Linked DNA regions of Homo sapiens: region 1 is linked to region 2. Evidence: fine-mapped expression QTL. A gene starts in region 2. The other region holds a variant in brackets. All regions are shown on one strand. Distances are between the middles of the regions.

Region 1 (5,089 bases), 150 kb before region 2:
GGTTGCATCAGCGGGAGGTCTTCCTCTTCAATGATCTCCTTGTGGTATGAGCACTGTGGGGGAGGAGATGGGAGGGAGAGAGTGAGCTTGACACCTAAGTCTGGTGTGAACCATATTGATGTAGGTGTGTGGTGTGTGGAGTGTGGCGGGCGAGGTGTTCTGCCATGCCATCTGCATGGTCTCAGGCAAGGCCCAGGCCTTCTCTGCCCCTCCTTTTCCTCACAGATGCATTTGGAGGTAGTAACAGACACACAGGGACAGAAAATATGAGGACCAAAGGAGATGACAGACTTACAACCTGGGAAGTGGTAGGAAATATCCCTGTCCACCTCAATAGCCCATAGGGTTGTGTGAAGAGGGGTGAACCTGCGACCCCCCAGGTCAGTCTGGAAATCTTCAGTAATCAAGATGCTTGAAGTGGGCTCGGCACTGTGGCTCACACCTATAGTCCCAGAACTTTGGGAGGCCAGGGCAGTTTGAATCACTTGAGCCCAGGAGTTTTGAGACCAGCTTGGGCAACATGTCGAAACCCTGTCTCCACAAAAAATACAAAAATTAGCCGGGCATGGTGGTGTGCACCTGTAGTCCCAGCTACTTGGGAGGCTGAGTCGGGAGGATCACTTGAGCCCAGGAGGCAGAGGTTGCAGTGTGCTGTGATCGCACCACTGCATTCCAACCTGGGCAACAGAGCCAGACCCTGCCTCAAAAATAAATAAATAAATAATAAAAACAAAATTTAAAAAAGATGCTTGGGCCAGGCACGGTGGCTCATGCCTGTAATCCCAGCACTTTGGGAGGCCGAGGTGGGTGGATCACCTGAGGTCAGGAGTTCAAGACCAGCCTGGCCAACATGGAGAAACCTCGTCTCTACTAAAAATATAAGAAATTAGCTGGGCGCAGTGGCGCATGCCTGTAGTCCCAGCTACTGGGGAGGCCAAGGCAGGAGAATCGCTTGAACCCAGGAGGCGGAGGTTGCAGTGAGCTGAGATCGCTCCATTGCACTCCAGCCTGGGCGACAAGTGAAACTCTGTCTCAAAAAAAAAAAAAAAAAAAGATGCTTGAAGTGATTCTTCAAACTGAGCTCATTACAAGTAGAGATGTTTGTCTTTTAGGGATGGGACTCTTAGGACTTTGCAGGTTGGAAGGGACTTTCAGGGTCCAGCTTCCTAGATGGCCCACTGGATGTATGACTGCAGGGACAGAAAGCCGCCTTCCTCTAAGGCAGCCAGTTGCCTTGTTAGGCAGCTCTGACTGCTAGAATTTGTCTCCCTGTGGGTTTCTTCCAGCCATCTGCACTCAACCCTTGGCATCACAAAGAACAAGTGTTGTACCTCTGCTCCAAGACAGCTCTCCAGGGATTTGAGGACTCTCTTGATCCTGTTCTCCCTGTGGTCTTCTCTCCTTTAGAGCAGGGTTTCTCAGTCTCATCACTGTTGACATTTGGGGCTGGATAATTCTTTGCGGGGACTGTCCTGTGCACTGTAGGATGTTTAGCAGCACCCTGGTCTCTACCTACTAGGTGCTAGTAGCAACCCTTCAACCAAAAATGTCTCCAGATGTTGCTCCGTGTCCTCTGGGGGCAATATCACCCCCAGTTGAGCATTGCTGCTTTAGCCGAAGTATTTCCATGCTCCCTCTGAGCCTTAGTTTCCTCCTCTGTGAAATGGAACTAACCCCTACTTCACAGGATTGTCATGAGGATGAAATGAAATAAGAGGTTATATGTGGAATCTGCCCTACCCCAGGGAGTACCTGGCCCACACAGTCAATGTGTAGACATCCCTCAGGTACTGAAACTGGTGTATGTCCAGCTCTATGCTAGGCACTGGGTATGCCAGGATGAATCAGACTTAGTCCCTGTTCTCAGGGAGCTCACAGCCCAAAGGACCTAAAAAAGTGCTTTGCGTCATTGTGCCATCCTGAAATCAAAACATTTCCTTTTACGAGCCACTTGCAGACCGCCTGAGGTGTTTGCAGCCTGTGTTAGTTGAGTCCAGAGTGCCCAAGTACTCGACAAAGATATTGGGTTGTTGAGAGGAAGACTTATTAACTCTCTACATGGGTTCAGCAGAGATTGCCATTAAGTGCAGGCTCTGGTAAGGCCTGGTGACAGAACCCGACAACCAGACTCCTGCCCTCCAGTCCAGCAGGGGGCGATCACACACTCAGAGGACTAGCATAGTGCCTGACAAGGGAAAGGCACTGAATCACCATTCTGGAGCTCAGAAAAGGGGTTTACAAATCTCTGTGGGATGTTGGAGCAGGCTTCCTGGAGGAAGCAGGATTCAGTTAGTTTCTGGAAATGTGGTAAATGTCTGTGGTGCGTGGTCATTACATCAGGAACTTGCGTTTTCTTCCATGTCTCCCATTCTGTCCCTCAAGCTTCCATTCTCCCCAGCTTGTGGGCATGTGTGTTTGTGTGTGTGTGTCTGTTAATGGGGTGGGAGGGGAGGGTGGTTACCAGAAATAGGTGCCACGTGGAAATCCCCCACCCAAAGCGCTGCCTCTTGTCTTTTTCCCACCCCTGCCAAAGGTCACCAAAATTTTCCAGAAGAAGAAGATCTTGGTGACGTACAGTTTCCGTCAGTCTTTCCCCCTCGTGGAAATGCACATGCAGCTCTTCCAGAATTCATGTGAGTCCCTTCTTGGATCCCAGCTCCTGAGAGTCTATGTCATGGCCCCCATGCTCACCCGTCATCTATACCAGCTCCAGTTTTCGGAGTCCCTTACAACCGGACTAAGGGTCTCCAAAGCACCTACTTGGTCCCAGGATGAGGGGCAGGCCAGGGTGGAGTATGACTTGGGTCTAGCCCCTGGTTAGCTCATGGTCTTGCAGAGAACCACAGTGCATGTGTTCTCTGGTGGGCCAAAGAGACGGTGATCATGCTGTGCTCTGAAGGATGAACCAGGAGGAGCTTTGTTGCGTGGTATTCCTGGCAGCAGAAGCAATGTGAGTTGAGGCAGAGGTGAGAAGGAAAGGGTTTCGAGAGAGCAGTGCATAGTTGTGTGCCTTTACATCCTGCAGTACAGGGAGTAAGAGGGCCACAGCTACCAGGAGTTTGAGGGCTTTGGGGCAAAGGGGAGCTGCTAAACATGCTCAAGCAGAGAAG[A/G]GGCATGATCAGAGTTAGACAGTAGAAAAATTATTTCATGGGCTAGGCATGGTGGCTCACACCTGTAATCCCAGCACTTTGGGAGGCCAAGGCAAGAGGATCGCTTGAGCCCAGGAATTCGAAACCAGCCTGGGCAACATAGTGAGACCCCATCTCTACTGAAAATAAAAAAAAATCTGCGCATGTGGTGCGTGCCCATGGTCCCAGCTACCCAGGAGGCTGAGGCAGAAGGATCACTTGAGCCCAGGAGTTCAAGGCTGCAGTGAGCCATGATGGCACCACTGCACTCCAGCCTGGGTGACAGAGAGATGTTGTCTCAGAAAAAAAAGAGCAGAAAAGAAAAATTATTTTATGTATGAGCCACCTTGCACCAGTCCCAACAGAGGTGCCCAGTCTCCCCTTTCTCCACAGATTACCAGTTTGGGATCAAGTTGCTGTCTGCAGTACCTGGTGGGGAGCGAAAAGTCCTCATCATCTTCAATGCCCCCAGCCTCCAGGACCGGCTGCGCTTTACATCCGACCTGCGCGAGTCCATTGCGGAGGTGCAGGAGATGGAGAAATACCGTGTGGAGTGTGAGTAGCCCAGCCATGTCTCCTCCCTGCTCTCCTGAAACAGTACCCTGCAGAAACCAAGAATCCTATCCTCAGAGAATCTCAGAGTTGAGGGTTAGCTTGTCCAACCTTCCCATCCTCATTTCAAGAATTCTTCAGCCTCTGCTTGAATACCTTCAGTGACAAGGGGCTCATTACCTCCCAACCCCATTATTATCCTGAACTCTAATTATGAGCCAACTATTCCTTCTAGTGAAAGGTATCAGGGAGAAGAATCAGAGTATTGGAGGTAGGACTATAGTTTTAGATCCCAGGTATACTACTCATTATCTGGGTGAACTGCAGCAAATTGCCTAACCTGCCAAGCCCCAGTTTCTTCCTATACGAAATTGGGGTAATGAAGTCTCCTTCACAGAGTCATGGAGATGAAATGAGACAAGGTAGCCGAAATGTCCCAACACATCTTAGGCATTCAAAAAATCCGTATTTCCTGTCCCACCCTCTCTCCTCCTCTGCCCACATATCAATTCCTGAGCTGAATCCCAGTGGGCTATCCTCTCAGCCCCCAGGGGCCACACCAAGTCATTTTGATCATATATATATAATGGAAAATAGTGATTACATCTCATTCCTCCCGATGCCCTCCAAGTTTTCTCTTCTCCAGGCTAAGCAGTCACAGTTAAGTAACATGGTGTTAAGGAGAAAGAGGCAGGCAGACAGAGACGAGGCGGCGGACAGCTCCTTGGTGAGGCCTTCACAGCTCCAGGGCCACTCTACTTCTCAGCGAGGCAGGGATAGAAATTTCAGTTCACCAGATCCTTTGAGACCCTGGGGAAATCCTGAGAGAGGGATTAGTAGCCCAAGACGAGGGGAGGCCAGTAGACACGTGTTTCTATGAGCTCCGTGGGGAGGTGGGGCTGTAGGAGGCCGGAAGCACCCAAGCTCTGGAATCAGGCAGACCTGCTTCCAGAATGTCGGCTCTGCCATTTCCAGCTGTATGACCCTGGGCAAGCTCTAAGACTTCTCGGATACTCAGTTTCTTCCTCTGCACAATGTGGATGCTAATACTGACCTCAGAACTGTTGTGAGGACTGAGAGAGATCAAGTATGTGTAGCGCCCAGCATACTGCCTGGCACATAATAAGAGGATTTGATTCCTGTCAGTTTCCTGCTCCTGCCCTTCCAGGAGCCCCTCTGCTCCGGAGCAAGGTATCTGAGAACTGACTGAACTCTGGAAAGATTGCCCTTTGCCATAGGCTAGAAGGGCCTTACCATCCTTACTGTGAACCATCTGCCATGAAGCTCTTTTTTGAAGGGCAGGGGTGCTTTGGGAGACCTGATTGCAAGAGGGCATGGGAGGGGAGAAGTCAGAAGGGTGAAAGGAAGGGAAAGGGAACAGGGAGAGCAGGCACCAAGAGGGATGAAGG
Region 2 (5,522 bases):
CCCATCTCAGCCTCCTAAGTAGCTGGGACCACAGGCGTGCACCACAACACCCGGCTAATTTTTGTATTTTTTGTAGAGACGGGGTTTCATCATGTTGGCCAGGCTGGTCTCGAACTCCTGGACTCAAGCGATCTGCCCACCTTGGCCTCCCAAAGTGCTGGGATTACAGGCGTGAGCCATCACACCCGGCCCTGTTTGGGGGGCATTTTTGACTGTGACAATAATTGGAGATCATCAGTGACAACCCTAGCTATGGACCAGGGATGCTCAGCCCTCTGCAGTGTACAGGACAGCTCCACACCACAAAGAATCATACCACATTCCATACAACTTTAGAATATCTCACCAGTAATGTAGGTGAAAAACCTGTTCATTTGTTCTTTTATTCATTCAACAAACATTCATTGAGAAAGTCTACTAGGTGTCAAGCACTATTTTAGGTAATAGGAATGTATCATAGAACAAAAAAGACAAAAATCCCTGCCCTTCTGGAGCTTATAATTGAGTGGGAGAGTCAGACAATAAACAGCAAACATACTAAGCAGTTAATGCTACACTGTGAAAAAGGTGTAGAATACCATGGAACAGACAGAGCAGGGGCATATTAGGGGAGAGCTGCAATTTTAAACAGGATGGTTGGGGGGCCCTCTGAGAAAGTGACAGCTGAGTAGAGGCCTGAAGGAAGCAAGGGCCTGAGCCTTGTGGGTATTTGAGGAAAGAGCATTCCAGATACACGGAATGCAAAACCCCTGAGGCGGAAGTGTGCCTAAGGTGTTCAAGTAATAGTAAGGTGGCCAGCATGGGTAGATAGAGTGAGCAAGGGGGGAGAGTGGTGGGAGATAAGGTCAGGGAGATTAAGAGGGTCTCATCATGGATATTAATATATACTGATTTTTCCAGAAATTTAACGACCATATAAACTGAGAAACTCTTCCACATTGTTTTGTTTAGAACTTTGTGAAGAATTGTTCATTATTTAGGAAAACTGTGTCACTCTACCTGTGGCTTCTGAATCACCAATCAACACACATGTAGCTGTCACTATCATTAAGTGTAAGACCATTTCATCATGTCTTCTAATGGAGTCATATCCCAGTCTTTGCATATATATGTGCGATATATGTATAATATAATATTATATATTACTCTTCCTTTACTACTCTCTATATTACAATTAGGGCATTATATTGGTTTTCAGGGAATTATGGGTGTAGACAGATTCTATTTTCTATCCATTTCATTTTAGAATAGTGAAGCATTTCAAAATACACCTTATTAAAAAAAAAAAGCAATGTTGGGTCCAACAGGTATGAGAACGACCAAAGCATAGCAAGAAAATAAAGGGAGTATTCAGAAGCCAGGATGAGAATGGAGGGAATTTTGCTGATAACTGAAGGTGAGTTCCTTAAGGCCTGGTCAAAGGATTTCAGGATGGAAATAGAAAATAGGATGTCCAGGGCTGTATGGAGACATAACCAGGAGATCTGTGGGCTTCCTGTGGTGACTAACATTATATAGGATAAGGGGCTATTAAAAAGTGGTTTTTAATCTAAGTTGCTCCCAACTTTGGGTGTCTCTACCTGTTTAACAGAGTAGGCTGGGGAGCAAAGAGAGTTCTCTCTTCAATGACACCAGAAGCAACCCAAAGCCAGGCTCCATTTTTTACCCACAGAACAGGTCGGAGCCCCAGGCTAAGCTCATGTCCTCGGGGGTAAAACTTATTGCTATAAACTATGCACCTCTAACCTCTTTAGGGTTGAGAAAGAGACGGGTAAAAAGAGGAAAAACAGTAACAGAGAAAGACAGAAGCATTCAGAAAGATCCAATGGAGGAAGGGTCAGAGACAGAGAAAAGACAGAAACCAAGAGAGACAATATTCTTTTCAGTCAAGATAGTCATTATTTATTGAAAATTTTCTAAGGACCGGGTGCAGGGCAAAGTAATGCACATGCATTGTCTCAGGTACACATTATCAGACCCCCATTTGGCAGATGAGGAAACTGAGGCCCAGGCTGGTGAAGGAGATAGCTCAAGGTTTCATAGCTAGTTTAAACTGGTCAGGATTCAGCATCTTATATCTACTACGTCTCAAAAAGTGGGACAGAGACAGAGATGGGAGAGGGGATGCAAAGACAGACACGCACGCAGACGATCACGTGAGCGGCAGACCTGCATGGAACCGTTTCGAAAGACACTGAGGGTGGGAGGTGGGGCCGCGGGAGGGCAGCAACGGGCACCGACCGCTCCGCAGGGTACTCACCTGGTTGCAGTCTGGGAGCCGCAGGAGCACTCGGCTTCCCTTTGCGACCCGCACGATCCTCCGCAACCCGCTGACCTAGGGTTGAGAGGCCGCCCCAGTAAAAGCTCGCGCAGGCCCCACCCCTCGCGCGCTTCGGCCGGCCTCTTCCCGCTGCCACTCCCCCCACCGCCCCGTCTTTATGGCTTCTCACCGTACACCTCCGGCCGTCGCCGCCGCCGCCCCTGCCGCGCGCGCACAGACACCAGAGGCCTACAGCAAGATCTGAAGGATACGCTGGACGGAACCCTTCCACGGGCTGCAGCGCGAGCAGGGGCACGGGCCTACGCCGCTACCGACGGCTCCCCGGCTCCCATTGGAGGAGTGCCCTTCTGCCTTTCCAGGGATTGGCTGGGGATGGAAACATTTTATTTTTACCCCCGAGGCTTAGAGCCAAACCGAGGAAAACTCCGCCCCTTCGGGGGACTTTGATTGGTTAAAGAGCCAAGCCCACCCTTTAATAGGATTGGCCAGGAAAGGAGTGCTTGTCATGGCCCTTTGCCTGTCTATTCGACAGGTCTTCAGGCGGCTACTTGGGAATACGCAGGCGGGAAGCCGGAAGCCACGCCAGGCGCCGAGTCACTGCACAATCGAGATGCCTGGCTTCTTTGACGTTTTACTCTCCATAAGCCACCTTGCACTGCCACCGCTCTGCTAAGAGACGCGATTCTGCCCCTAGTTTCTCACAGTTCCACACCCACCTGCAGAGATTCCTAAGCCAGGTTTCTCTCGCTCAAAGTGAGCAGAGTTCCTTATTCCATGCATGGAGGATGAGGTGGCTATGGGGATGTGGCGTGTCACCTACCAGTCCCTGATACCTGCTGAGACATTGGTCAAGTGACAACCTCGCTAGGAGCCTCAGTTTAACCATCTGGAAATGGAAAGATGTTTTAAAATTTTCCTCACAATGTGTGAGGATTAAATGAGAGGGCAAATATAGATCAGTTGCCTGGGGCATAAATAATTAAGTTCTCTCCTCCCAATTCTTTCCCAGTATTCAGGCGGACAGAACTTATGGCCCAGAGAGGCAAACTGACTGGCTTGAAGTCACACAGCCAGGCCCCACCCCTCGCGCGCTCCGGCCCTGCCTCTTCCCGCTACCACTCCCCACCACCGCCCCGTCTTTGCGTCTTCTTACCGTACACCGCCGGCAGTCGGCGCAGTAAGACCCAGAATAAAACCCAGGCTTCCAAAGGAAAACTGTTTAAGAAGGAAGGAGAGATGGGAAGGACCCTCCTATTTGCAAGGGTTCTTAATTTGTATTCTGCAGACCTCTAATCGAGGCTGGGGACAGGGTTTGGAGAGGTCCATGAATTTGGATGGGAACAAATTTACACCTTTATGGCCGGGCGCAGTGACTCATGCCTGTAATCCCAGCACTTTGGGAGGCCGAGGCGGGCGGATCACCTGAGGTCGGAGTTCGAGACCAGCCTGACCAACATGGAGAAACCCCATCTCTACTAAAAATACAAAATTAGCCGGGCGTGGTGGCACATGCCTGTAATCCCAGCTACTAGGGAGGCTGAGGCAGGAGAATCGCTTGAACCTGGGAGGCGAAGGTTGCCGTGAGCTGAGATCGTACCATTGCACTCCAGCCTGGGCAACAAGATTGAAACTCCGTCTCAAAAAAATAAAACAAAATTACATCTTTATTTTCCCTCTCCTCTAACTGAAATTTAGCATTTTTCAATAAAGAATGTAACTAGGCATAGTAGCAGCAGTAGTAGCAGTACTGATTGTCACTAATAGAAATCAGAGATTTTCATATCACATTATAGATGTTGCAGATCTCTTGAAAATCATATAATTTCAATCATTATTTTAAAATCATGATAGTCATTAGACCCTCCATTAAATCTTATGATTTAATGGATTAATGGGGAGTACATATACGATTATACTATAGCACATATTTGCTTTTTCCATATTTTAATAACTATATTTCAATGTAATCAATTTCTTTTGTAATTCTAGATATTTTATTTTATGAATTTAAACAATTTTTTTTTTCTGAGAAAAGGTCTGGTGGGGCATGGTGGCTCATGCCTGTAATCCCAGAACTTTGGGAGGTCGGAGGCGGGTGAATCACCTGAGGTCAGGAGTTCCCGACCAGCCTGGCCAACATGGTGAAACCCTGTCTCTACTAAAAATACAAAAATTAGCCGGGCGTGGTGGCGGGCGCCTGTAATCCCAGCTACTCGGGAGGCTGAGGCAGGAGAATTGCTTGAACCCAGGAGGTGGAGGTTGCAGTGAGCCGAGATCGCACCATTGCACTCCAGCCTGAGCAACAAGAGTGAGACTCCATCTAAAAAAAAAAAAAAAAAAGAAAAGAAAAGAAAAAGAAAGGTCCCATTAGGCTTCACTAGATCACCAAAGGGGTCCATGGCACAAAAAATATTAAGAATATTTGTCTTGAACTCTAGGCTCCAGGAGGAAAAAGACTTGCTCTATTGGCTGGGTGCGGTGGCTCACGCCTGTAATCCCAGGACTTTGGGAGGCCGAGGCGGGCTGATCATGAGGTCAGGAGATCGAGACCATCCTGGCTAACATGGTGAAACCCCGTCTCTATTAAAAATACAAAAAATTAGCCGGGCGTGGTGGCAGGCGCCTGTAGTCCCAGCTACTCGGGAGGCTGAGGCAGGAGAATGGCGTGAACCCGGCAGGCGGAGCTTGCAGTGAGCGGAGATTGTGCCACTGCACTCCAGGCTGGGCAACAAAGAAAAAAAAAAAAAGACTTGCTCTATCTTGTTTCCCTGCTGTATCCCTATCACCCAGTTCAGTACTTCAGGCACACAGTAAGTACTCATAAGTGTTTACTGAATGAATAATAGGATTCCTTCCCAACCATCCTGCACACCCCCAACTGGGGGAGCCAGTGCCAGCCCTTTGGGTCACCTAAGGAGGGACATTCTTGAATCTAGTTTTGTCCCTGCCAATCCGATTCTACTCACAGAAGTAGGTGGCACTTTAAAGGTCTGGTCCCAGGAAATCCCAGGAACCTCCCACCCAGGAGCAGGGCCCTCTGCTGCAAAGGAGCGAGGGCAAGCTAGGAAGCATATGAAGACAAGTAGTTTCAACATGGGAACAGGCCCTAGGGCACATTGGGCCCATGACTCTTCATCCTCCTGGTTTCTGTTTAAGGTCTCAGCCAATGGGGCCTGTCTTCTCTGGCCTTCAGCGAAGACAGTATCTTGGAGCTAGATGTGACCTTAAAGACCTAGAACAG

Alleles and levels. Alleles are on the strand shown, and positions count from the first base shown. SD is a standard deviation of normalised expression in the study named.
With allele G in place of A in region 1, the expression in prefrontal cortex of the gene that starts at base 2,593 in region 2 is lower (moderate effect, 0.71 SD a copy in GTEx).

What was found. PIP is the estimated chance that this variant, and not a neighbour inherited with it, causes the effect.
Region 1: its variant is fine-mapped to the expression of KANTR in prefrontal cortex (GTEx, PIP 0.93).

Annotation. Positions count from the first base shown.
Region 1 is chrX:53,236,739-53,241,827 of GRCh38, reverse strand. IQSEC2 (IQ motif and Sec7 domain ArfGEF 2) reads left to right here. Exons shown (of 15, transcript NM_001111125.3): 10 at 1-44; 11 at 2,534-2,633; 12 at 3,522-3,683. Among named protein-coding and RNA genes, the nearest start is that of KDM5C, 14 kb to the right of the region's middle. The variant A/G (reference allele first, on the strand shown) is at 3,111.
Region 2 is chrX:53,091,213-53,096,734 of GRCh38, reverse strand. KANTR (KANTR integral membrane protein) reads right to left here and starts at 2,593. Exons shown (of 3, transcript NM_001397448.1): 1 at 2,451-2,593. RefSeq lists a silencer at 2,265-2,414 and enhancers at 2,475-2,594, 2,905-2,964, 2,677-3,501.